Linked DNA regions of Homo sapiens. The protein of the gene in region 2 purifies or fractionates together with the protein of the main gene of each other region. This does not show direct contact. Each region holds a gene or a part of one and is shown on either strand. Other genes may lie near its edges.

Region 1 (11,892 bases), on a different chromosome or scaffold from region 2:
CCAGGCAGATGAGCAACGACCTTACAGAGCAAGCAGCCACCTTTGGGCTCATCCTGGATGACGTGTCCTTGACACATCTGACCTTCGGGAAGGAGTTCACAGAAGCAGTGGAAGCCAAACAGGTGGCTCAGCGGGAAGCAGAGAGCACCAGATTTGTGGCAGAAAAGGCTGAGCAGCAGAAAAAGGCAGCCATCATCTCTGCTGAGGGCGATTCCAAGGCAGCAGAGCTGATCGCCAACTCACTGGCCACCGCAGGGAACAGCCTGATAGAGCTGCGCAAGCTGGAAGCTGTGGAGGACATCACATTCCAGCTCTTATACTCTGGGAACATCAGCTCCCTGCCAGCGGGGCAGTCCATGCTCCTCCAGCTGCCCCTGAGGGGCCACCCTGCCTGCACCTCCGCAGGCCAACTGGGCCACAGCCCTGATGATTCTTAACACTGTCTTCCTTCTGCCCCAACCCTAGAAATCACTATGAAATTTCATGATTGGCTTAAAGTGAAGGAAATAAAGGCAAAATCACTTCAGATCCGCCCCCTCCCCCAAAAAAAGCTTGAAATATTATGAAAAAAACAAAATATCGATTTGCTTATCTTTTGTATGCATTGTCTATGGCATGTGATAGTGGAATAATCTTCAGACTCTTTATCTGCCTATTTTCCCACTTCACTAACTGTTCTTATTTTAGCTGTCTCAATCCACAATAGGTTAGTTTTGGCCCTGGGAAATCAGAAATACTCTCAGAGAAGTGAGAAAAACAACCTATTTTTCTGGTATATTCTTTTCATCAACTGCACTGTTTTCCAATACAAAGATAGATTCCAGGTATCACTAAGATTTCCCTCAGGAAATCTTAGCCCTAAGGAGAGCTTAGGTAAGTCCTCTGGGTTTCTTTTTTTTTGTTTCCCGAGACAGAGTCTCACTTTGTCACCCAGGCTGGAGTGCAGTGGCCCGATCTCAGCTCACTGCAGTCTCCACCTCCCACATTCAAGCAATTCTCCTGCCTCAGCTTCCTGAGTAGCTGGGATTACAGGTGCCCCCCACCACACCTGGCTAATTTTTTTTATTTTTTATAGAGATGGGGTTTCACCATGTTGGCCAGGCTGGTCTCAAACTCCTGGCCTCAAGTGATCCGCCCACCTCAGCCTCTCAAAGTGCTGGGATTACAGGCGTGGGCCACCATGCCCAGCTCTTTGGGGTTTTCTTATTTCAGCTAAATGAAGTTGCTAAAGAAGTAAGCAAGCATCTGAGGGCAAATTCACAAATACCCATAGAGACAACCACATAGATGTGGAAGTAAAGGAACACTGTTCATTTGATATTTTGCCTTTATTCCTCTGGGCCTATTTTCCCAAACCCTTCTTTAAACTCTCCTACAAAAAGACCCAAAGAGACTTGACCTTTCATTACCATACCTTTACAAAGGAGTCTCCGAAACTGCTGAGACCTTGCAGTCAGGGAGAAGAGAAGATCTGAATGCTAAACTGGACAAGAGATACATTTATCAGGCAGACCATGAATATCAACCTTCCACCAAATAGGTAAATCTTTACCTTTTTCTTTTCTGGATTTCCAACATTTGCCAGAGCTATAAACCGGGTGGCATGCTGTGCATTTTCCTGTAGAATGATATGGTTTCTACAACATATTTGAGAGACAAAAAATTGCAAACAATTTTACTTTTGATTTGCAATGACAAAATATGTGGACTCTATGGGGCCATAAAAAGAGCAGAGGTCCTCAGTTCATCATCGCCAGTCAAATGATTTCAGATAAGTTACTATCTATCCGTCTAATAGGGCAACAATCCCTACCTCACAAGGCTGTTTTAGGAAGAGATGAGATTATGTCTTCAGAAACCATCAAAACTCCAACTTTTGGCTTTAAAAGAGTTGTAAAATTGGCAAAATGTTGACAATAGTTCAAGCTAAGTGATGGACACATGAGGTTTCACTTTACTATTGCCTCTTCTTTTGTGTAATAAAAAGCTAAAATAGGCCAGGCACTTTGGGAGGCTGAGACAGGAGGACTGCTTGAGCCCAGGAGTTTGAGAACACCCTGGGCAACACAGTGAGACTCTGTCTCTACAAAAAAAATTTTTTAATTAACTGGGCATGGTGGTGCATACCTACAGTCCCAGCTACTCAGGAGGCTAAGGTAGGAGAATCACTTGAGCCCACGAGGTTGAGGCTGCAGTGAGCCTTGATAGTACCTCAGCACTCCAGCCTGGAAGACAGAATGAGATCTTGTCTCAAAAAAAAAAAATTAAAAAAAAAAAAAATGTAGTCCTTTGTGTCTGGCTTCATTCACTTAACATAAAGTTTTCACGGTTCAACCATGTTGTAGCACATGTCAGTACTTCATTGCTTTTCCTTGCCAAATAACATTTCATCATATATTTACCACTTTTAATTTACCCATTCACCAGGTGATGGACATTTGGGTTGTTTGCATTTTGAGCTATTATGAATAATGCTATTATGATCATCTGTGTACAAGTTTTTGTGTGGACATATGTTTTCCCTTATCTTGGGACAGGAATAAAATTGCCGTTACCATGCTGCTGACTCTTACATTTAACCTTTCAAGAACTGCTAAACAGTTTTCCAAAGCGGCTGCACCATTTTACACTCTCACCAGCAATGTGTGAGGATTCCAATTCCTCCACATCCTTGTCAACACTTGTTATTATGTATTTGCCTTTTTGACTACTGCCATCCTAGTGGGTATGAAGTGGTGTATCATTGTGCTTTTGATTTACATTACCATAATGGCTAATGATAAGAGCATCTTTTTATATGTCTATTGGCCTTTTTTTTTTTTTTTTTTTTTTTTGAGACGGAGTCTCACTCTGTTGCCCAGGCTGGAGTGCAGTGGCGCGATCTCTGCTCACTGCAAGCTCCACCTCCCGGGTTCATGCCATTCTCCTGCCTTAGCCTTCCAAGTAGCTGGGACTACAGGCGCCCGCCACCATGCCCAGCTAATTTTTTGTATTTTTAGTAGAGACAGGGTTTCACCGTGTTGGCCAGGATGGTCTCGATCTCCTGACCTCATGATCTGCCTGCCTCGGCCTCCCAAAGTGCTGGGATTACAGGCGTGAGCCACCACACCCAGCCCTATTGGCCATTTTTATATGTTCTATGAAAAACTGTATTCCGATTCTTAAGAACTGTGTAAGTTTTGAGTGGCTTGTTCCCAAAACTTCTGTTTTCGCAGTATATTTTTAGAGAACAAGACATTCTTCTAGAATGAGTATATGGAGATTTAACAGAAAAACCTGTATTACCTATGATTCTGCATTAGGCTGTGGGATTATGGTAAGGGGGGTATTCTCTTCTTGCTCACTTAAATTTTTTTAACTAGCAACACGTAAATATTACTTTTGTAAAAAAGAAGGGAAAGAAGTTATTTTAGGGATAATCCATGCCCTTTATCAGTGAAGATAATTCTGAGCTTTTACTTAACTCTCTCACTTGTAAAACACTGGTTTTCTTGGCAGTATATTCTTTAAGAACTTGACCTCTATATCAGGAGATCGAGACCATCCTGGCTAACACGGTGAAACCCTGTCTCTACTAAAAATACAAAGAATTAGCCAGGTGTGGTGGCGGTCGCCTGTAGTCCCAGCTACTCAGGAGGCTGAGGCAGGAGAATGGCATGAACCTGGGAGACGGAGGTTGCAGTGAGCCGAGATCATGCCATTGCACTCCAGCCTGGGCGACAGAGCAAGACTCTGTCTCAAAAAAAAGAACTTGACCTCTATATACCTACTATGCTACTATGTACCCCCAAAAATTAAAAAAATAAAAACTCCACCTCTGAGTGCAAAAGAAAAAAAATAAAAAAAAATATTTTCTTGGCTGGGCATGGTGGCTCACGCCTGTAATCCCAGCACTTTGGGAGGCTGAGGTGGGCAGATCATGAGATCAAGAGTTCAAGACCAGCCTGACTGACATGGTGAAACCCCGTCTCTATTAAAAATACAAAAAAACTTAGCCGGACGTGGTGGCACGCACCTGTAATCCTAGCTACTCAGGAGGCTGAGGCAGGAGAATCACTTGAACCCAGGAGGCGGAGGTTGCAGTGAGCCGAGATCATGCCACTGCACTCCAGCCAGGTGACAGAGCGAGACTCCGTCTCAAAAAAAAAAAAAAGACAAAAAAAAATTTTTTAAATTTTCCCTCTCATTTATTTTTAATTGATAACTAAAATTTGTATTTTTTATTGTATACAACATGCTGTTTTGAAATGTGTATATACTGTGGGATGGCTAAATCAAGCTAATTAACATATACATTATCTCATATTTATTTGTGGTAAAAAATTTTTTAAAGAAATGGGGCTCCCTATGTTGCCCAGGCTAGAGTGCAGTGGCTATTCACAGGCGTAGTCATTGCACACTATAGTCTTGAACTCCTGGGCTCGAGCGAGCCTCCTGCCTCAGCCTTCCAAGTAGCTGGAACCACAGACACACACCATCATGCCTGGCCCTGAAAAGGAAAAAACTGATACAAGTTCTTGATTCTGAAACTGAAGGATTTCCAAAGTGATTTCAAATTAGGGAACAAACTCAGAGAAGATGAATGACTTGAGAGTCACTTACTTCAGTGTCTGAGTAACCAAATGGAACCAAGATGTTATATGGTTAAAAACGAACAAGAGAAGTTTATACAGAAGATCCATGGCAAATTCTTCAAAAAGCCAAGAAGAATGAAATGCTACTCACCGATATGGAAGCCTCTCATAATAGGTCTTTTCCAAAGCAGCAAAATGGTATCTTGGTTTCAAGCCCGTGGCAAGACTGGAAACCAAAGCAGAACCACATTTTTTGGTATCCACTTCTCCCTAGTAAACAAAAACTTAGTCATCCATACAGACCAAAAGTTATCAAGAAATGCAAATAAATAATAAGACATTTTGAAATGTCTTTGAAATTTATACATGAATACAGATGTGGACAGAAGGAACTGCACATTGAATTTCATAAGTATGGCAATCAGAGAAAAAATCTTAACAAATAAGGGAGCTGAACTACTATGAATGTAGAAATAGGAACAACTGTTGGAAGCCAGAGATTAAAAGGTAACTCCTCCATATCAATACCCAAAACACAAATTATTAAAACCTTTTTTGGAAAGTAAGCTCTCCCTCTGGAGCCCACAGACTGGGCTTCTAGTTTTGGTTTGTTTTTTTTTTTTGAGATGGAGTCTTGCTTTGTCACCCAGGCTGCTAGAGTACAGTGGCACAATCTCGGCTCACTGCAACCTCTGCATCCTGGGTTCAAGAAGTGATTCTCCTGCCTCAGCCTCCCTAGTAGCTGGGATTACAGGCACGTGCCACCACACCTGGCTAATTTTTGTATTTTTAGTAGAGACGGGGTTTCACCATGTTGGCCAGGCTGGTCTCAAACTCCTGATCTCGTGATCCGCCCGCCTCAGCCTCCCAAAGTGCACGCGTGAGCCACTGCGCCCAGCCTCTAGTTTGTTACGTAGTGCATCTGTAGTTCACGGGTCCAGACAGTCATAGTCAATTCAGAAAATCAAAGCGAAAAGCTAGGCTTCAGGGCTCCTAGGATCCACAGAATATCTGGTATAGAGTATTCAAGGACTTCATCACCAGCATATAATCCTTTATTTTGCTTCAGTCAAGGAAGTGGCAGTTTGAGGAAGGGCATAACCACACCCTTCTTAAGTAATATGAAGTTTGCTCAAAGTTATTCTTGCTCCCAGAACATCCCCAGATTCTGTTAACAACCAATTAAGTGATCTCTCACCCACAGCATTATTTATGAACTCTATTCTAAGAGAAGGTATTACTTGGAAATAAGCTAACAAAGTTTGTTTTCCACTACGTAAAGCAGGAATTTCCTTTTGTCTTATGCTTGTTTCCTTCAGGTTTCTGCTGAAGGGCAGGGAATTAGCTTTGAGGTCAGTCCTAGCATCTTAGGGACTGGTGAACTATACTTTTCTCCTCCATAAATATACTGTATGGTTATTTATAAGCCTTGATCAAAATCAATTTTTAGCTCCCCGCAAAACAAAGGGGCCTCATTTTCTCATCCTTCCTTACAGAGCATCATATGTGTCTTTCTCTCTTCCTTCATCACTTTAGCAGCCCTTCTCTCGATCTTCCCTAGCTTTGCTATATCCTTGTGCTCCAACCAGCTCTATGCCTTGTATTCTACGTAAAGAGTAATCATGGGTTTGTCAAAAAGGAAGAGAGCATCCTCCTTGATAATGCCTGGTATCCTGTTGGCCTTTTTGGTCATGGACACATGGTGCTGAAACTGGCAAGGGGTGGTATACAGGCTCCACTTCTGGATCATCACTGATAATCCTGAATCCAACCATGGAGATTTGTTCCCAAATGCATTCTTACATTTCCCTTCAATGAAGCTCACCCAGTGTTTTCTGCCCTCACACATAACCTTTTCAAAATCTTCCTTAGGCTTACTTCCACCAGTGTAGCGTTTCACTCCCCATGATAGTTGTCACTCCTGGTGTACCATCCTTTTCAAGATTACTCATAAAATATTAAAATCTGGCCAGGTATGGTGGCTCACGCCTGTAATCCCAGCACTTTGGGAGGCCAAGGCGGGTGGATCACTAGAGCGCAGGAGTTCAAGACCAGCCTGGGCAACCCTGTCTCTACTAAAAATACAAAAATTAGGCTGGGCACGGTGGCTCATGCCTGTAATCCCAGCATTTTGGGAGGCTGAGGTGGGCAAATTACTTGAGGTCAGGAGTTTGAGACCAGCCTGGCCAACATGGTGAAATCCCATCTCTACTAAAAATACAAAAAAATCCGCCTGTAATCCCAGCACTTTGGGAGGCCGAGGCAGGCAGATTGTCTGAGCTCAGGAGTTCATGACTAGCCTGGGCAACATGCTGAAACCCCATCTCTAATAAAATACAAAAAATTAGCCAGGCATGGCAGTGTGCGCCTATAGTCCCAGCTACTTGGGAGGCTGAGGCAGGTGAATTGCTTGAACCCAGGAGGCAGAGGTTGTGGTGAGCAGAGATGGCGCCACTGCCCTCCAGCCTGGGTGACACAGCAAAACTCCATCTCAAAAAAAAAAAAAAAAAATTAGCCAGGCGTGGTGGCGCATGCCTATAATCTTAGCTACTCAGGAGGCTGAGGCAGGAGAATCATTTGAACCCGGGAGGAGGAGGTTGCAGTGAGCCAAGATCGCACCACTGCACTCCAACCTGGGCGACAGAGTGAGACTCCATCTCAAAAAAAAACAAAAAACAAAAAACAAAAAAATCAGTGAAGCCTCAAAACATTAAGAGGCTTAGGAAAGGGCACTTGAAGCAGAGAATATAAAAAACCATTCCTTTATAATTAAGATTTCAGCAGTCTCATCTATGAATCACACTTTCATGAAATTAACTTTTGCTTTGATCAGTTGACAGAACTTTTAGAATCCTGAAAATTTTCACAGAAGACTTCTAATAAAAGGTACCCAAGAGCTAAAATACTCAATATAAACAGGAAAAGAAAAAAGTCCCAACTCAAGCCAGTGCAATTTGCTTTTAGAAATTCCAACTAAACAAACACTACTCACAGAAGAATTCCCAAAGTTCCCCACACACTTGGGCCATGGGGATGTGAGCAAGATATCAACACCCTTAAACTGGGAGGTTGTACACAGCATCATTCTCAGAGAAGACACATCCTTGGGACTAAAACTATAACCTGGTACTGGCTCATTTAAGGATTCTGTCCCACTGAGGTACACAATCTGCAGCCCCGAGCTTCCAGTGAAGATACCTTTACGACCTGGGTTCAAAGAAAAATGAACAAATTTTAGTCAGAATTGCAGAATGAAAAGCCATCAATAGGGGGATGAATCTCCCATGACTCTCCTATGTCCCTGCCATTTTACATGTCTGAAGTGTAAACTCTCCAGCAGCTCCCTTCTGGCTGCTAGGCATCAATGGTGAATGGCTACAACAGTATTCCTGCTCAGTAAATATGAACAGCCCTACGTGGAGGCTGCTGGAGCCCACGGGCCAGTATGTTTATGCCAGGTGCCTTACAAATATTACTGGAAAAAGTTGGGAAGAGAAGATTAGGGAAAAGGCTTTCTGCGTTCTAGAGAAGATTCTACATGGACTTAAATGCAGACATCTGGACACAGGAAAAGGCAATGCGAAGAAAAATACAGTTCTAAGGAAGCTACAGTCTAGAAAAGATGCACATAGTGAAACCCCATCCCTACTAAAATACAAAAAATTAGCCAGGCATGGCAGCGTGTGCCTGTAGTCCCAGCTACTTGGAGGCAGGCAGCAACTTCCAAGTGAAGGAAAACATTTGGAAAGAACAAGTGTTTAGGAAAAATTTAAGACGCCACTCTCTTCTATGGTTATTCCTGGCTTGTGGCCTTGTTTCCATTCCCTCCTGTTGCCTTCAAGACCTTGCTCCATCAATTTTCACTTCCCTTTCATCTACTGAGTCTACTCAGCTGGCGCTTTTTGTTCAGAAAAAAATATGCTCAATCATCGCCATCCAAAATGAACACACATACTAAGAAACTTCCTCCTCTTCAGTTTTGAATTTCTGAAGAGTCATCCATGCTAAGTGCTTTACCTTTTTTTTTTTTTTTTTTTTTTTTTGAGATGGAGTCTCGCTCTGTTGCCAGGCTGGAGTGCAGTGGCGCAATCTTGGCTCATTGCAACCTCCACCTCCGCCTCCCGGGTTCAAGTGATTCTCCTGCCTCAGCCTCCCAAGTAGCTGGGACTACAGGTGACCGCCACCATGCCCAGTTAATTTTTCTATTTTTAGTAGAGATGGGGTTTCATCATGTTGGCCAGGATGGTCTCAACCTCTTGACCTCGTGAACTGCCCACCTCGACCTCCCAAGGTGCTAGGATTACAGGTGTGAGCCACCACGCCCAGCCTACTTTATTAGTTCCTTAACCCCCTGCAATCAGTTTCCCTCTCCCATCACTCTCTTAAAGGTCACCCTATATTTGCCAATGTTCTCCTGAAACTATGTTATCTTCAGTAGATTCCATGAAGTTGACAATATCTTTACCTCTCAAACAGTCCTCTAAGCACTTTTATGTCTTTGTTCCTACCCCCTAGATGAAGATATACCATCCCCACCCACCAAGGTACTATCATCAACCTGCTTCCCTTCTGATTGTATTTCTTCCTTAATAATTTGATCCTCTTCTCAGCTCTATTTTTCATCATTATGGGACCAACTCTCCAAAGCCTATACTCTTCAACACTGATACTCTAGAAAGAACTCTCGGACCAGCACAGTGGCTAATGCCTGTAATCCCAGAACTTTGGGAGGCTGAGGCAGCTGGATCACCTCAGGTCAGGATTTCGAGACCAGCCTGACCAACATGGTGAAACCCTGTCTCTACTAAAAAATACAAAATTAGCCGGGCATGGTGGCACACACCCGTAACCCCAGCTACTCAGGAGGCTGAGGCAGAAGAATCGCTTGAATCCGGGAGGCAGAGGTTGCAGTGAGCCAAGACTATGCCATTGCAATTCAGTCTGGGCAACAAGAGCGAAAGTCCATCTCAAAAAATAATAATAATAACTCTCACTTCCAACTATATGTTGGATGTCCTACCAGTATTTCAAGCTCACTATCACATGTTCACTACCAAGTTCACTGCTTGATCCTCCTACTGGATCCAAAAAATCTATTTCACAGAAATAACCCAAGTACCTTAGCTGCTCTTTCCTTTCCTGGCACTAAATTCATATAGTAAAATGGCTGCCAAATATCTACAGTAATGCCCTTAATCCAAATCTACAAACTATACCAAGAACTGCATAAGTCAGGCTCATGTTAAAATCTACAACAGAATTTCAAAATGCGTATCTGATATGTGTAGTTAAAACTAAACAGTGCTCACTTCAGCAGCACATATACTAAAACTGGAAAGATAAAGAGAATATTAGCACGGCACCTGCACAAGGATGACATGCAAATTCATGAAGAGTTCCATATTAAAACAACAAAACAAATAAAGTCCTTCCTTCAATTTTTGCTTAAAGAAGTCCCACAGGATTAGTGCAAAATAAGACTGGTAACGGGAGGGCCATAGCCAAATAAAGACTAAAGGCCAAGATGAACTATGATGGGGAAGGAGAGAGAGGACATTTACAGCAAAGGAAATGAAGAAGTTTTCTAGAGAAATAAGACCAACAAGGAGGAAATGTGAAGAATAGTAAATTCAACTAAAAAAAAAAAAAAAAGCCGAGCACAGTGGCTCACACCTGTAATCCCAGCACTTTGGGAGGCTGAGGCAGGCGGGTCACCAGGTCAGGAGATCGAGACCATCCTGGCCAACATGGTGAAATCCCGTCTCTACTAAAAATACAAAAATTAGCTGGGTATGGTAGTGCGTGCCTGTAATCCCAGCTACTCGGAAGGCTGAGGCAGGAGAATCACTTGAACCAGGGAGTCGGATGTTGCAGTAAGCCGAGATCATGCCACTGCACTCCAGCCTGAGCAACAGAGCAAGACACTGTCTTAAAAAAAAAAAAAAAAAAGAGTTGAATGATCTAAGAGGCAGCAGACTGCCAGCAGGTGGGGGGAAAACAAAAGCAAAATTTGACAGTGCTTTTGAAAACAGCCAGACATTGAAAGAGCCACTAAAAGCAATACAGAGGGCTGTGGAGGAAACAACTTTAAGCTGGAACTGAAGAGTGTACCTAGAACCAGAAAAAGGAGAGTAAAAAAAGAGTAAAAAGCCCCCAAAGAACAGCACTAAAAACCTGAGTTGCCAAAACCTTAGAGTGAAACCTAGAGCTATAAATAGTTGGGAGGCTCATTAACAAGTAAGCTGTATATACCTAGCAAGATTGTATGGTAAAGCCACATACATGAAATTTCCTTTGTGTGAACATAATTTATACCTTAAGTATCCCATATACTATAGACAAGGAGTTTATCCCTCCAGTTGGCTAAACAAGTGTGTACCGGGTTGTGGGAACGCAACGATATTGGGGCTAAGTGGTAGAAATAATAAAGAAAAAATGCCACTGTCCTAAAGGCATTGTCCTAAGGGCACAGCAGCACATATACAGACTCTGGGAAAAAACCCTCCAAACCCCATTATCTCAGGCTGCAATCACTGAAAAATCTAGCCAAAAATTTCCTGGGAGACTAATTCCTGAGAACACTATATTATGTTCATTACAAATACAACAAATATCGGCCAGGCGCGGTGGCTCACGCCTGTAATCCCAGCACTCTGGGAGGCCGAGGTGGGCGGATCACGAGGTAAGGAGATCGAGATGATCCTGACTAACACGGTGAAACCCTGTCTCTACTAAAAATATAAAAAAAATTAGCCGGGTATGGTCACACACGCCTGTAATCCAAGCTACTCAGGAGGCTGAGGCAGGAGAATCACTTGAACCCGGGAGGTGGAGGTTACAGTGAGCCAAGATTGCGCCACTGCACTCCAGCCTGGGTGACAGAGCAAGACTCCGTCTCAAAAACAAAAAACAAAAAACAAAAAAAAAATACAACAAGTATCAGCTTACCCAGATAAGTAATGTTTTCAGCTAATTCACATCCATCAGCATCCTGGAAATATTTTACTGTTTCCTGGTTATTAGCACCAAGCACATATGTCTGAATAGGAGCTAGTGAGGGAAACAGACATGACACCATATAGTTACCAGATCTGCTTTAGAACTTAAGATATGCCTCTCTATAGAAAAAATACTTATATTAAAAGTAAATAGTCCATGCATTCACATTCCCCATATTTAGCAATCCTAAATGTGGAACAGCTATCCACTAAGGATATACTACACCCAACCTTGTAGCTTGGCTATTTTATTTATTTTATTTTTTTTTTTTTGAGACAGAGCCTTGCTCTGTCGCCCAGGGTGAAGTGCAGTGGTGCAA
Region 2 (11,892 bases):
ACCCAGCTCCCACTGAAGGTGCAAAGAGCATGCCCTCTCTAGCCACGGCGACCACCAGGTCCATCCTCCCCCACCTCCTCCTCCTGCAGGTGGCCTTCTGGCCAGTGTGCCTGAGTGCTCACCTCTTGCTCTAGTGTCCTGGTGCTCCGGCTCTCCTCTTCCTCCTCACTCTCCTGGGCCTGGGCCTGCCGCTCCCGGGCCTCCAGGTCTAGACACAAGGGTTGAATGACCAGACTGCTGGTCTGTTCAGTTTCCATGTGGCCTCGGCCCACCCCAGCTCTGGCTGCCTCCCCAAAGTCTCAATCACGACGAGATCATACAGTAACTCTGCCCCCTCCCTCCATGCCCACGCCCCCGAGTCAATTTCCATTGAGAAAAATCACAGCACAGAAGTATGGGGTCTAGCAGAGTGGCCAGGGGTCTGGAAGAGTTAAAAACAGCTCACACTGACCAAGCTGGTTCTCTCTAGTGAACAGGGTGTGGGTGGTGCTTATGTCAGCAGCCCAGGGCCATGTGTCAGGGGTGCCAATGGGCGGAGCTGCTGGGCTCGATTCCTGTGGTTTGGCACCACAGCTTGACTTGCTTTGGCTTTGATTCTTTTCACACACTGAGCTCAGGTTCTCACTGTCTCCTTTACCTCCCACCTCAACTCACATTTACCAAGCCTCACTGTGGACCTGGCTACAGGGATGGGCAGAGTGTTAGGGCATCACCCCGGGTCCTGGATTGTGTGAGGGCGTTACCTTCCAAGAGAAACCTGCTTGCAACCATGTGCCAGGCCAGCTGCTGTGAGAAACCCTTCTCTTAGTCCAGAGAAGTTTGTGCACTTTACTTACTTAGACTCTCCTTTTCTCTCTCTCTCTTTTTTTTTTTTTTTTTTTGAGATGGGGTCTCCTGGCACTTGCTTTTCTTTTAATATAGAAATAGATATTGGGATGCTATATGCACATATTAAAATATATGGATGTTGAAGAGCAAGAGGAAAAGGAGAAACTTGAGTAAAGAATGCTTGGACTGGGCCAGGCGCGGTGGCTCACGCCTGTAATCCCAGCACTTTGGGAGGCCAAGAGGGGTGGATCACCTGAGGTCAGGAGTTCGAGACCAGCCTGGCCAATGTGGCAAAACTCCGTCTCTACTAAAAATACAAAAATTAGCCGGGTGTGGTGGTGCGCAACTTAGTCCCAGCTACTCGGGAGGCTGAGGCAGGAGAATCGCTTGAACCCAGGAGGCAGAGGTTGAAGTGAGCCGAGATCGTGCCACTGCACTCCAGCCTGGGCAACAAGAGCGAAACTCCGTTTAAGAAAAAAAAAAAAAGAGTGCTTGGACCATGCTGCTATAACCAGTGACTTTTTTTTAAGTGAGAAAAAAAAAATGCTTGCAGCAATCTTATTGGGTTGATGAAAATGTTCCAAATCTGATTTATAGTCAGAGTTGCATCATTTAGTAAATTTACGAAAAATCATTGAAGTGTACACTTGAAATGGGTTGATGTTGTGATATACAAAGAATACCTCAATAAAGCTATTAGAGAAGAGAAAGCCTGGACCTCTTTGAATCCTTCTGAGGGAGCTTCTCAAAGTGAAAAGTCTGGGTAGGAATTGGGGTTAGAACAAATTAAAAGACCCAGCCGGGCACAGCGGCTCGCACCTGTAGTCCCAGCTACTCAGGAGGCCAAGGCAGAAGGACTGCTTGAGCCCAGGAGTTTGAGGCTGCAGTGAGCCATGATGGTGCCACCCTAGCCTGGGTGACAGTACAAAACCCCGTCTTTCTTTAAAAAAAAAAAAAAGAAGAAGAAGACTCAGCCAGAAATGGTGAATACAAGCACCAATTTTTTTGTTTTGTTTTGTTTTTTGAGATGGAGTTTTGCTCTGTCACCCAGGCTAGAGCACAGCAGCGTGATCTCAGCTCACTGCAACCTCTGCCTCCCGGGTTCAAGCAATTCTCTGCCTCAACTTCTCGAGTAGTTGGGATTACAGGCACCCGCCACCACACCCAGCTAATTTTTGTATTTTTAGTAGAGAAGGGGTTTCACCATCTTGGCCAGGCTGGTCTCGAACTCCTGACGTCGTGATCCACCCGCCTCGGCCTCCCAAAGTGCTGGGATTACAGGCGTGAGCCACCGCGCCCGGCCACAAGCACCAATTTTACTCACACTGGATAAGTTTAAATCCCACCTCCAGCAAGCTCTTAAACTTTTGGTGCCTTAGCTCCTTTGCCTATAAAAAATGGCTTCAGAGGCCAGGTGCGGCAGCTCACCAGCTGTAATACCAGCACTTTGGGAGACTGAGGTGGATAGCTTGAGGCCAGGAGTTTAAGACCAGCCTGGCCAACATGGTGAAACTCCATCTCTAAAAAAACGGAACAAAATTAGCCGGGCGTAGTGGTGCATGCCTGTAGTCCCACTATCGTGAGGCTGAGGCACAAGAATCGCCTGAACCCAGAGGGTGGGGGTTGCAGTGAGCCGAGATCATGCCACTGCGCTCCAGCCTAGGTGACAGGGTGAGACCCTGTCTCAAAAAACCATGTTCTTAAAAAAGGTTTAGTACCCACACTTCCTTGTATAGTTATGATAATTAAAGGGACAATAAGGCATTTGTCACAATGCTTAGCTAATATTAAACCTTATTATTGTTATTATTCCTAAGAGTGTCTTTAGGAACCAACCTCTAAGAACAGCGTTTTGCCCAGAGCCTGAGCCAAAAGGCTTTGAGATGAGTTGCTGGAAGTGAAGCTTCAGGTGAGGGAGATGAATGAAAATGACCACAGGAAACCACAGGCCACCGAGCACTATGATGGCACCTACCAAGCTTCACTTTCTTCCTTTTCTCATCAAGTTTCTGGGTCCTCTCTGCTGCTTGCTTCTTGGCTTTCCTGACCTTGTCATATGCAGCCTGGCAGGAGAAAGGGGCACAGGGCAGAGGGTCAGTGAGAGAGTAAAGACAGAGCCCCGGCAATCTGCCTGGCCCCTAGCCCACGAGCCATCAGAGTGGCAGCCTGGTGACTGGGTCTCCTGGGCTTAGACAGCAAGGACTGTGCCACATGGCAAAGGGCAGAGGACCGAGGTTGAGAGGCAGCAGTGGTCTCTAACCATGGGGGACGATTCCGATGAAGGAGGCTGTGCTTACCCTGGCTGCAGCATCGGTCAGCACCTCCAAGGCCTGAGAAAGCTGGTGGAAGAGTTCAGCTAAACATAAGGATCAAAAAGACAGAAGAAAAATAAAGTTAAGACTTCGTAATGGTGTGCTCCCTCAAAAAAAAAAAAAATCTTCAAAGAAGTCACAGGATGGCAGACAAGCCGACATCAGCAGATGACAGACCAACAAGGAGGGGTGAGCATATCAGCAACTGACCAGACACCCCTCACAGGAGGGAAGCCCTGGGACCCATTGCCTGGAGCCAGGCAATGTGTGCTTACACCCCACAGCACTCACATGCAGAGCTTACATCGGGAAACACAATGCCCGGGTGAGTGGGTTTCTTTCTCCCCACGCCCTGAGAAGAGTCTCACCTGCTCTGGGATTATCTGGATTTTTGTCTGGGTGGCAGGAGAGGGCCTTCTGCCTATACGCCTTCTTTACCTGGAAGAGTCAGACAGAAGACATGGCCATTCACTCTCATCCCAGGGACAAACAGGAAAACCTTGCTCAATGGGTAAGGGGAATCCCATGCACACCTAAAAGAGAAGCTGCTGGCGCCCACTTCCTAGCCACCAGGGAGACTGGCAATGGAGGAGGCCAAGGCCATGGAGGGAGTGAGCCACTGTCGCCCAGCACAGGAGCTGGGCCCACCTCCTGCTAAGTGCTCAACCTCACCACTGCAGATGTCCAGGGGCTGCTGCAACAGGCAGGAGCACAGTACCCCGCTTTCTCGACAGCCACTCGAAGACAGGTACTCTACACATTCTTGGTGGGCATATAAACTGGGGCAACCTATCTGGAAGAAAATTCAGCCATCAAAATTTAAAATGTTCTTTCCCTTTGACCCAAGTCCTAGGAATCTGGACTTGTAGAAGTATGGCAAAAATAAATATACAAGGATGCTCTCTACAACACTGTTGATACTAGCCAGCCAAGATCCCCATCAACGGGGAGACTCATTTAAAAGATTATGATTGGCCGGTGCGGTGGCTCACGCCTGTCATCCCAGCACTTTGGGAGGCTGAGGTGGACAGATCACCTGAGGTCAGGAGTTTGAGACCAGCCTCACTAACATAGTGAAACTCCATCTCTACTAAATATACAAAAATTAGCTAGGCATAGTGGCGGGCAGCTGTAATCCCAGCTACTTGGGAGGCTGAGGCAGGAGAATCGCTTGAACCGAGGAGGCGGAGGTTGCAGTGAGCCGAAATCGCACCACTACACTCCGGCCTGGCGACAGAGCAAGACTCTGTCTCAAATAAAATAAAATAAAATAAAATAAAAAATAAAATAAAAGATTATGATTGAGGCCGGACATGGTGGCTCACGCCTGTAATCACAGCACTTTGGGAGGCTGAGGCGGGTGGATCACTTGAGGTCAGGAGTAGGAGACCAGCCTGGCCAACATGGCGAAACCCCATCTCTACTAAAAATACAAAAATTAGCTGGGTGTGATGACATATTCCCCTGTAATCCCCCTACTTGGGAGGCTGAGGCATGAGAATCGCTTGATTCATGCAGGAGGCAGAGGTTGCAGTGAGCCAAGATTGTGCCACTACACTCCAGCCTGTGGGACAAGAGCGAGACTCCATCTCAGAAAAAAAAAAAAAAAAAAAAAGATTATGATTGGCCAGACATGGTGTAATCCTGTAATCCTGGCATGTAATCCTGTAATCCTCATGCCTGTAATCCTGGCACTTTGGGAGGCTGAGGTGGGCAGATCACTTGAGGTCAGGAGTTCGAGACCAGCCTCGCCAACAAAGCAAAACCCTGTCTCTATTAAAAATACAAAAATTAGCCGGGCATGGTGGCGTGCACCTGTAGACCCAGCTACTTGGGAGGCTGAGGCAGGAGAATCACTTGAGCCCCAGAGGCGGAGGTTGCAGTGAGCCGAGATCATGCCATTGTACTCTAGCCTGAGTGACAGAGGGAGACCTTGTCTCAAAAAAATAATAAAAAATAAATTTCAAAAAGTTTGTTCAGGAATTTGCCACGCTTATTAAAATTTTTTTTAAATAAAATATTATAGTAGACAGAGGTATCCATGTTCTGACATAGATCTTATTATAAACTTTTGAGTTTAGTCCAGGTGCGGTGGCTCAAGCCTGTAATCCCAGCACTTTGGGAGGCCGAGACAGGTGGATCACGAGGTCAGGAGATTGAGACCATCCCGGCTAACACGGTGAAACCCCGTCTCTACTAAAAATACAAAAAAATTAGCCAGGCATGGTGGCGGGCGCCTGTAGTCCCAGCTACTCGAGAGGCTGAGGCAGGAGAATCGCTTGAACCTGGGAGGCAGAGGTTGCAGTGAGCCGAGATCACACCATTGCACTGCAGCCTGGGAGACAGAATGAGACTCTGTCTCAAAAAAAAAAAATTTTTTTTTGTCAGGTGTGGTGGTGCATGCCTGTAGTCCCAGCTACTCAGGCGGTTGAGGCGAGAGGATCGCTTGAGCCCAGGAGTTCCAGCCAAGCCTGGGCAACATGGCAAGACCTCATCTCTACAAAAATTTTTTAAACATGAGCCAGGTGTGGTAGCATGTGCCTTTGTCCCCCTACTCAGGAGGCTGAGGTGGGAGGATCACTGGAGCCCGGGAGGTTGAAGCTGTAGTGAGCATGTTCACACCACTGCATTTCAGCCTAGGTGACAGAGTGAGACCTTGTCTCAAAAATAAAAATAAAAAAATTTTAAATTAAATTAAAATAAAATAAAAAATTAGCCAGGCATAGTGGTGCGTGCCTGCAGTACCAGCTACTAAGGAGGTTGAGGAGGGAGGATCACCTCAGCCAAGGATTTTGAGGCTGCCGTGAGCTATGATGATGCCACTGCACTCCAGCCTGGGTGACAGAGCAAGACTCTCTCTTAAATACATAGAAAGAAAGAAACCCCAATATTTCTTACATAAGTAAAAATAAACACAGCTACCAAGATTCTCTTTCGTGTGCTACCTAATAGCTGTTGTAAGTGAAGACAGTGTACACAACCCCAGAATCCGTCCTCTGCCTCCAAGGCCTTTGCTTTCTCCCTTCTGCTTGGTGTGTGTTACCTGCTGCTCAAACCTCCTGGAGGAAGAGCTAAGCAGATTGGATTTCTAAGCTTCCAAGATGGACGCAAGAAACGCTTCTACACCCAAGTGTGCTAAATAAGGACTTTCAGAGGTAAGCAGCCAGCATCCACAAGGTGAGCACCTGCTGGGCAACTCCTCCATCCATGAGGCAGCCACCGGGCCCAGGACCTCTAGGGGTGTGCTGCCACCTGCTGGGCCATAGCCAGGGCACCTGCCATGGCAGCCCAAGCTGTTTGGTTCTCCTGACTGCCTTGGAGGCAGCAGGAACCACCCAGGACAGGCGCTGGGCAGAGAGGGTGTAGACGTGCCACCTGCCTTCCCAATCGCCCACCGAAGCACATCTGCCCTGCCTGCTCACCTCCCACCCTAACCCTCCCTGCCTAGCTCTGTTTTCACTACAAAAAAGAACAATATTAAGGGAAAGGAGGTGCTAGCTTAAGACAGTGTCATCTTTGCAATATATCATCTTTACTTTTTAGGTCCCTTATCATTCGTCTTTTCTTTCTTTTGCTCTCTTTGCCTGCTTTATTGTGCCTCCAGCCTCATTCCTTTACTGAACATATTTTATATTTCAGGGCCCCTGTTTGCTTTTTTTCAATAAGTAAAACAATACCAAAAACATTATAAAGATGTTCTTTCTCAATCTCCCCAGCCCTCTGACATCAAGGTTCATTAACACATATAAAAGCACCTACACACACTGACAGGAGTCTGTTGGGTGTTTGTTCCTGGCCTCTGGGCCCCTCCTCTCTGATCCTATCTCCACCCTCTCTCTGGGATGGGTGAGAGGAAGGGAGGGGGAGGCGGTCCATGTCCCAGTATCTATGGCATCACCTGCAACACTACCTTCAAGATGAACTTCCTCAGGACTAGGACTAGTAGGCTTGCCCCAGGGATGTAGGGGGGTTTTGTGGAAGATGTTTTCTTTTGTATCATGGGGCTCTTTTAAAGTGGTTTAGGCTGGGCATGGTGGCTCACACCTCTAATCCCATCGCTGTGGGAGGCCGAGGTGGGTGGATCACTTGAGGTCTGGAGTTTGAGACCAGCCTGGCCAACATGGTGAAACTTGTATCTACTAAAAATATAAAAATTAGCCGGGTGTGGTGGTGCATGCTTGTAATCTCAGCTATGGGGGAAGCTGAGGCAGAAGAATCACTTGATTCCGGGGGGCAGAGGCTTCAGTGAGCTGAGATCGTGTCACTGTACCCCAGCCTGGGTGACAGAGTAAGGCTCTGTCTCAAAAAAATAAAATAAAAGTTTGTATGTTCCTTGTTATAAATCTGAGAGGGGGAGTAGAAGTGAGTGTGAAGAAGAAGGAGCAGGCTGGGTGTGGTGGCTCACGCCTGTAATCCCAGCATTTTGGGAGGCTGAGGCGGGCGAATCAGTTGAGGTCAGGAATTCGAGACCAGCCTGGCCAACGTGGTAAAACCCCGTCTCTACCAAAAATACAAAAATTAGCTGGGCGTGGTGGCACACGCCTGTAGTCCCAGCTACTAGGGAGGCTGAGGCAGGAACCTGGGAGGCGGAGGTTGCAGTGAGCCGAGATTGCACCACTGCACTCCAGCCTGGGCGACAAAAATAAAATTCTGTCTCAAAAAAAAAAAGAAGGAGCAGTAAGAAAGCAAGACAGAAGGGGTGTCCAGCAGTGGCATCTCCTTCATTTTCTTTCCTTTTTTTGAGAGAATGCTTTCTGAATTTTATTCTAAGGGAATGATAAATATTCTTTTGTGTTTCATAATTTATTTTGAATGTTCTATATTGGAATTTTGGTTTTTCACTGTAATAGGAAAATAAAATTATTCAAGCTGAAAAATCCACTCATATTGTCAAATATGCTTTACATATATTAACTTATTTAATTCTTAAAGCCCCTATGAGGTAGAAATTATTATCCTCCTCATTTTACAAATGAGGAAACTGTGACATAAGGGTTAATTATGATACCCAAAATCCATTCAATGAAAAGCCATACAAACATTACTTTAGGCAAAAACTATTCTACTCCAGCCAATTACCACAGAAAAAACAGTGGACACCACCCCACCCATGCCATCAAAGGCCAGGTAGAGAGCATAGACTTCCATTCTTGCTACCCTAAACCTCTGCCAGAGTGGTGTCAGATAAAGCCAAACAGGGAGGCTAGGACTTTCATCCCCAACAGATGGAAATACAAAAATATAAAAATATCTCTGGGCCGGGCGTGTTGGCTTACACATGTAATCCCAGCACTCTGGGAGGCTGAGGCGGGCAGATCACCTGAGGTCAGGGGTTGGAGACCAGCTTGGCCAACATGGTGAAACCCCGTCGCTACTAAAAATACAAAAATTAGCTGGGCATGGTGGTGGGAGCCTGTAATCCCAGCTACTCAGGAGGCTGAGGCAGGACAATCGCTTGAACCCAGGAGGCGGAGCTTGCAGTGAGCCGAGATCATGCCATTGCACTCCAGCCTGGGAGGGAAGAGTGAAAGTCCATAACAACAACAACAACAAAACAACAACAACAACAACATCTCTGAAAGAAAAGGGATATCCCCGAAAAAGCTTCCAGTCTCAGTATCGTTTATTATTAAATAATCCTACCTTATAAACAGCTGAAAGGGTTATAGCTGATATTTACTTTCTATAATAAGCTTGTATTACTTTTCAAGTGATACAAGAAAAAAACTGGTAAGAAACAAAAACAAAATTGTTTAGCTTCTTTCCACAATTCTAAGCTAGGAGGCAGCATGGTTCACTAAAAGAGGGCAAGTTCTGGAGTCTGGCAGATGTATTTTCAAATTCGGAATCTTCTACATACTGATAGCATGACCTTGGGCAAATTACTGAAGCTCACACAGCCTTAGGGACTTCAACATCAAACTGAGAAGAATAAATCCTACACACAGGGCTGCTGGAAGGATTAAAGAAAATGATCCGTGTAAGCACCTGACAAAAACTAGGTGCTTCCTACAAGTTCCCAAACCTTTCTCTCCTCTACTTCTGGAAGAGGGTAAACTGTGACACCAGGCCAGCAGGATGCCAATTGGACAGGAATTCAGGAATGGACCCTGGTCCACAGTGGATGCAGGTCAACTCCATTTGAATTCTCTAGGTGGACAGGGCTGGATTTGAGTCTGCTGTGGGGTAGATCTAAAATTCAATCCTGGGTTCACTCCCAGGGTCTCTGAAATACTCTTATTCAAGGGGTAGAAGGGATGGGTAGGTAGCCTGAGATCTTCCAGAGTGGCCTTGAATCAAAACCCAGCTGGCCTAAGAATGTTGGTCAAGTATGTCTGTCTTGATTAACTAGTTATTACTATATTTAACTGTTAAACCTGCCCTGGGCAGGGCCCATCCCTTGGTTTTAGCCTGGAAGACCAGTTTTGACTTTGAACCGGTTGGCCTAGAATTTGGTGCTTTGTACTACAAACTAGATTCCCAGCTTTGTCCAGCCCTCCTGGAGTTGACTGCTGCCTGAAGAATTTCTCACCATGTAAACACAACTCTCCTAAAGCAGGCCTTTGAAAAACCTTCCGGTCTCAATATTGTTTATTATTAAATAATCCTACCTTATGAACAGCTCAAAAGGCTAGATTCAGGGTAAAAATGTACAACAATTATTTTTTATAACTATCACAAAATTGGGAAGGAGAGGAACTTTCAGAAGAACAAGAAATAGAAGGGCCATCCTCTATAATCTTACTCCTTATGATATAGGATAAACAGGACTGCTGAAAGCCAGGTATCCCGGGTTGGAAGCTCCTCCAGAAACTGACTCTGGCCCAGGTCCAGTGGCTCACGCCTGTAATCCCAGCATTTTGGGAAGGTGAGGCGGGAGGATCGCTTGAGCCCAGGAGTTTGAGACCACCCTGGGCAACAGAGCAAGACCCCATCTCTAAAAAGAGAAAGAAAGAAACTGTGTCTGCAGGTGCTGGGATCACTGAGGCAGAGCTGAAGCAGCCACAGCAAGGTGTGGCTTTTCACTTGCAGCTTTTCTTCTTTACCTATAGGTTTCCCCTAAATCCCCTGGTCTCTCTAGCGCTTAGAAACACTTGCATTTCTGAGACTTCACAAAGGATCCAGGTGACAGTTCAAATGTTTCCAACCCAAAGTTCCCCATCCAGATCATGGCTTTTCAGAGGAGAAGCTCTTTCTAAGGCCCAGCCTCAGAAGGACGAAGATCTCAGATAAATGTAAGCTCCGTGAGTACTTCGAACTGCAATTTGCAGAAACTTGGTCTTTCTCCTGATGGCTTTCTAAAAACCTCACTGTCTACCACCCTTTTTCCATCCTAGACTGGTTGAGTTTAATCTGTTTTTGATGTCTCAGGATCATCATCCAGAACATCAACTACTGAATAGTATGACACGTTCTACGGAGAGTGGTGTCAGGCTTTTCATTTGCTTCCCTAGGTGGCGAGGATTTTAAATTCTACTCTTTTAATAGTTTTCCTATTACTTCCTTAGTTGGCCTCTACTAGACTGCCAGATGCCAGCCCTTCCCTAGAAGTGCTGCTCATCTGCTGCTTCTTTTCTGGTATGGTCTAGAGAAACAGATAAGCTGGTTATAACTATACCTTAAATGAGAGCATAAGGGTATAGGAAGGTATGGGGGTTCCCCTTACAAATAAAGTGGATGTACTTAGGAGGCAGGGAGTTCTGCTTCTCCCCAGGGTCCAGAACAGTGAACAGCACCTGGCATTCAGCAGGCACACAATAAATATCTGTTGCATGAATTGGCAAACATTCATTTGTTCTCAACCAAAACACAATCGGAAACCTCAACTATGTCAATTACTTCAGACCCACTGAGGAGCAGAAGGAAGTAGGTGCCATCCAGACCCTAGGAGATCTGACCACTATTTCACAATTTCTCCTCCTCCCTGCTAACACCTCCTCTTAAAAAACCAAGTCTGGGAAAGGGAAGGAATTACTAAAGCAGACTGCCAGGATAACCACAGTGGGAACTAAATGTTACCCCCTCATTGCCCACATCAGACAATGAATAATAAATTGGCAGCCACCCAGCCCTTCCCCGGAAGCTCTATAACCGGTTCTACCACTTTCAGCAACCTGAACCCAGAGCAGGGGAGGAGGGCTGGAAGCTGGGTCTCTAGCCACCTCCACTGGGTTTTGCCGCAAGCACACAGCAGGGCCTCTGACATCCACCTGCCTCCAGTTTCACCTCTTGATGGGGGAAGGAACTCCTGACTCACCCAAAAAAGCTAAGTGCTAAGGGATCCAATAAATACAAAATAGCCATCATTAACTTAAAAGAAAGGTGCCCTACAAAGAAGGGATCATTATTTTTTAAAAGGTTGCTGTCCTTTCTTGTAATAAAGCTTGGAGCCAGGTAAGTAAGTGGTACAAGTAAAGAGGCCGAGGCTGATAGGTTAGACTTAGATAAGGAGGACACAGAGGGAGGCAGCTCTATGTGACAACAAGCACTGAATGGACAAAGCATCCCGGGTAAATCAGCTGGAAACCCACTGCCAGGCCCAGTTCCAGTCACAGGCACAGTGAGTGATAACAGCTGGGGCAGCCACGTCTCCCCAAGCCCGGAGAGGCAGATGCCTCCCCATCCCCTCACTAGCAGGAACCCCAGAGGTATATGACTGCCTGATGTCACACGCAGGAAGCAAACAACAGAGCTCTGGGCACCTGCCTAAAAGTCCCCTCTGGCCAGGCATGGTGGCTGATGCCTGTAATCC

What was found.
Region 1: the proteins of DNAJC17 (region 2) and CWF19L1 purify together in Homo sapiens (affinity purification with mass spectrometry; 2 studies listed by BioGRID and IntAct, with this or other methods). This does not show direct contact.

What each region holds. Positions count from the first base shown.
Region 1 is NC_000010.11:100,248,696-100,260,587, forward strand, and holds part of CWF19L1 (CWF19-like protein 1), read right to left. Parts: intron 11,625-11,892; coding exon 11,523-11,624; intron 7,782-11,522; coding exon 7,567-7,781; intron 4,845-7,566; coding exon 4,726-4,844; intron 1,638-4,725; coding exon 1,553-1,637; intron 1-1,552.
Region 2 is NC_000015.10:40,776,420-40,788,311, forward strand, and holds part of DNAJC17 (dnaJ homolog subfamily C member 17), read right to left. Parts: intron 3,579-11,892; coding exon 3,509-3,578; intron 3,185-3,508; coding exon 3,126-3,184; intron 2,892-3,125; coding exon 2,804-2,891; intron 209-2,803; coding exon 123-208; intron 1-122. UniProt on the Homo sapiens protein: May negatively affect PAX8-induced thyroglobulin/TG transcription.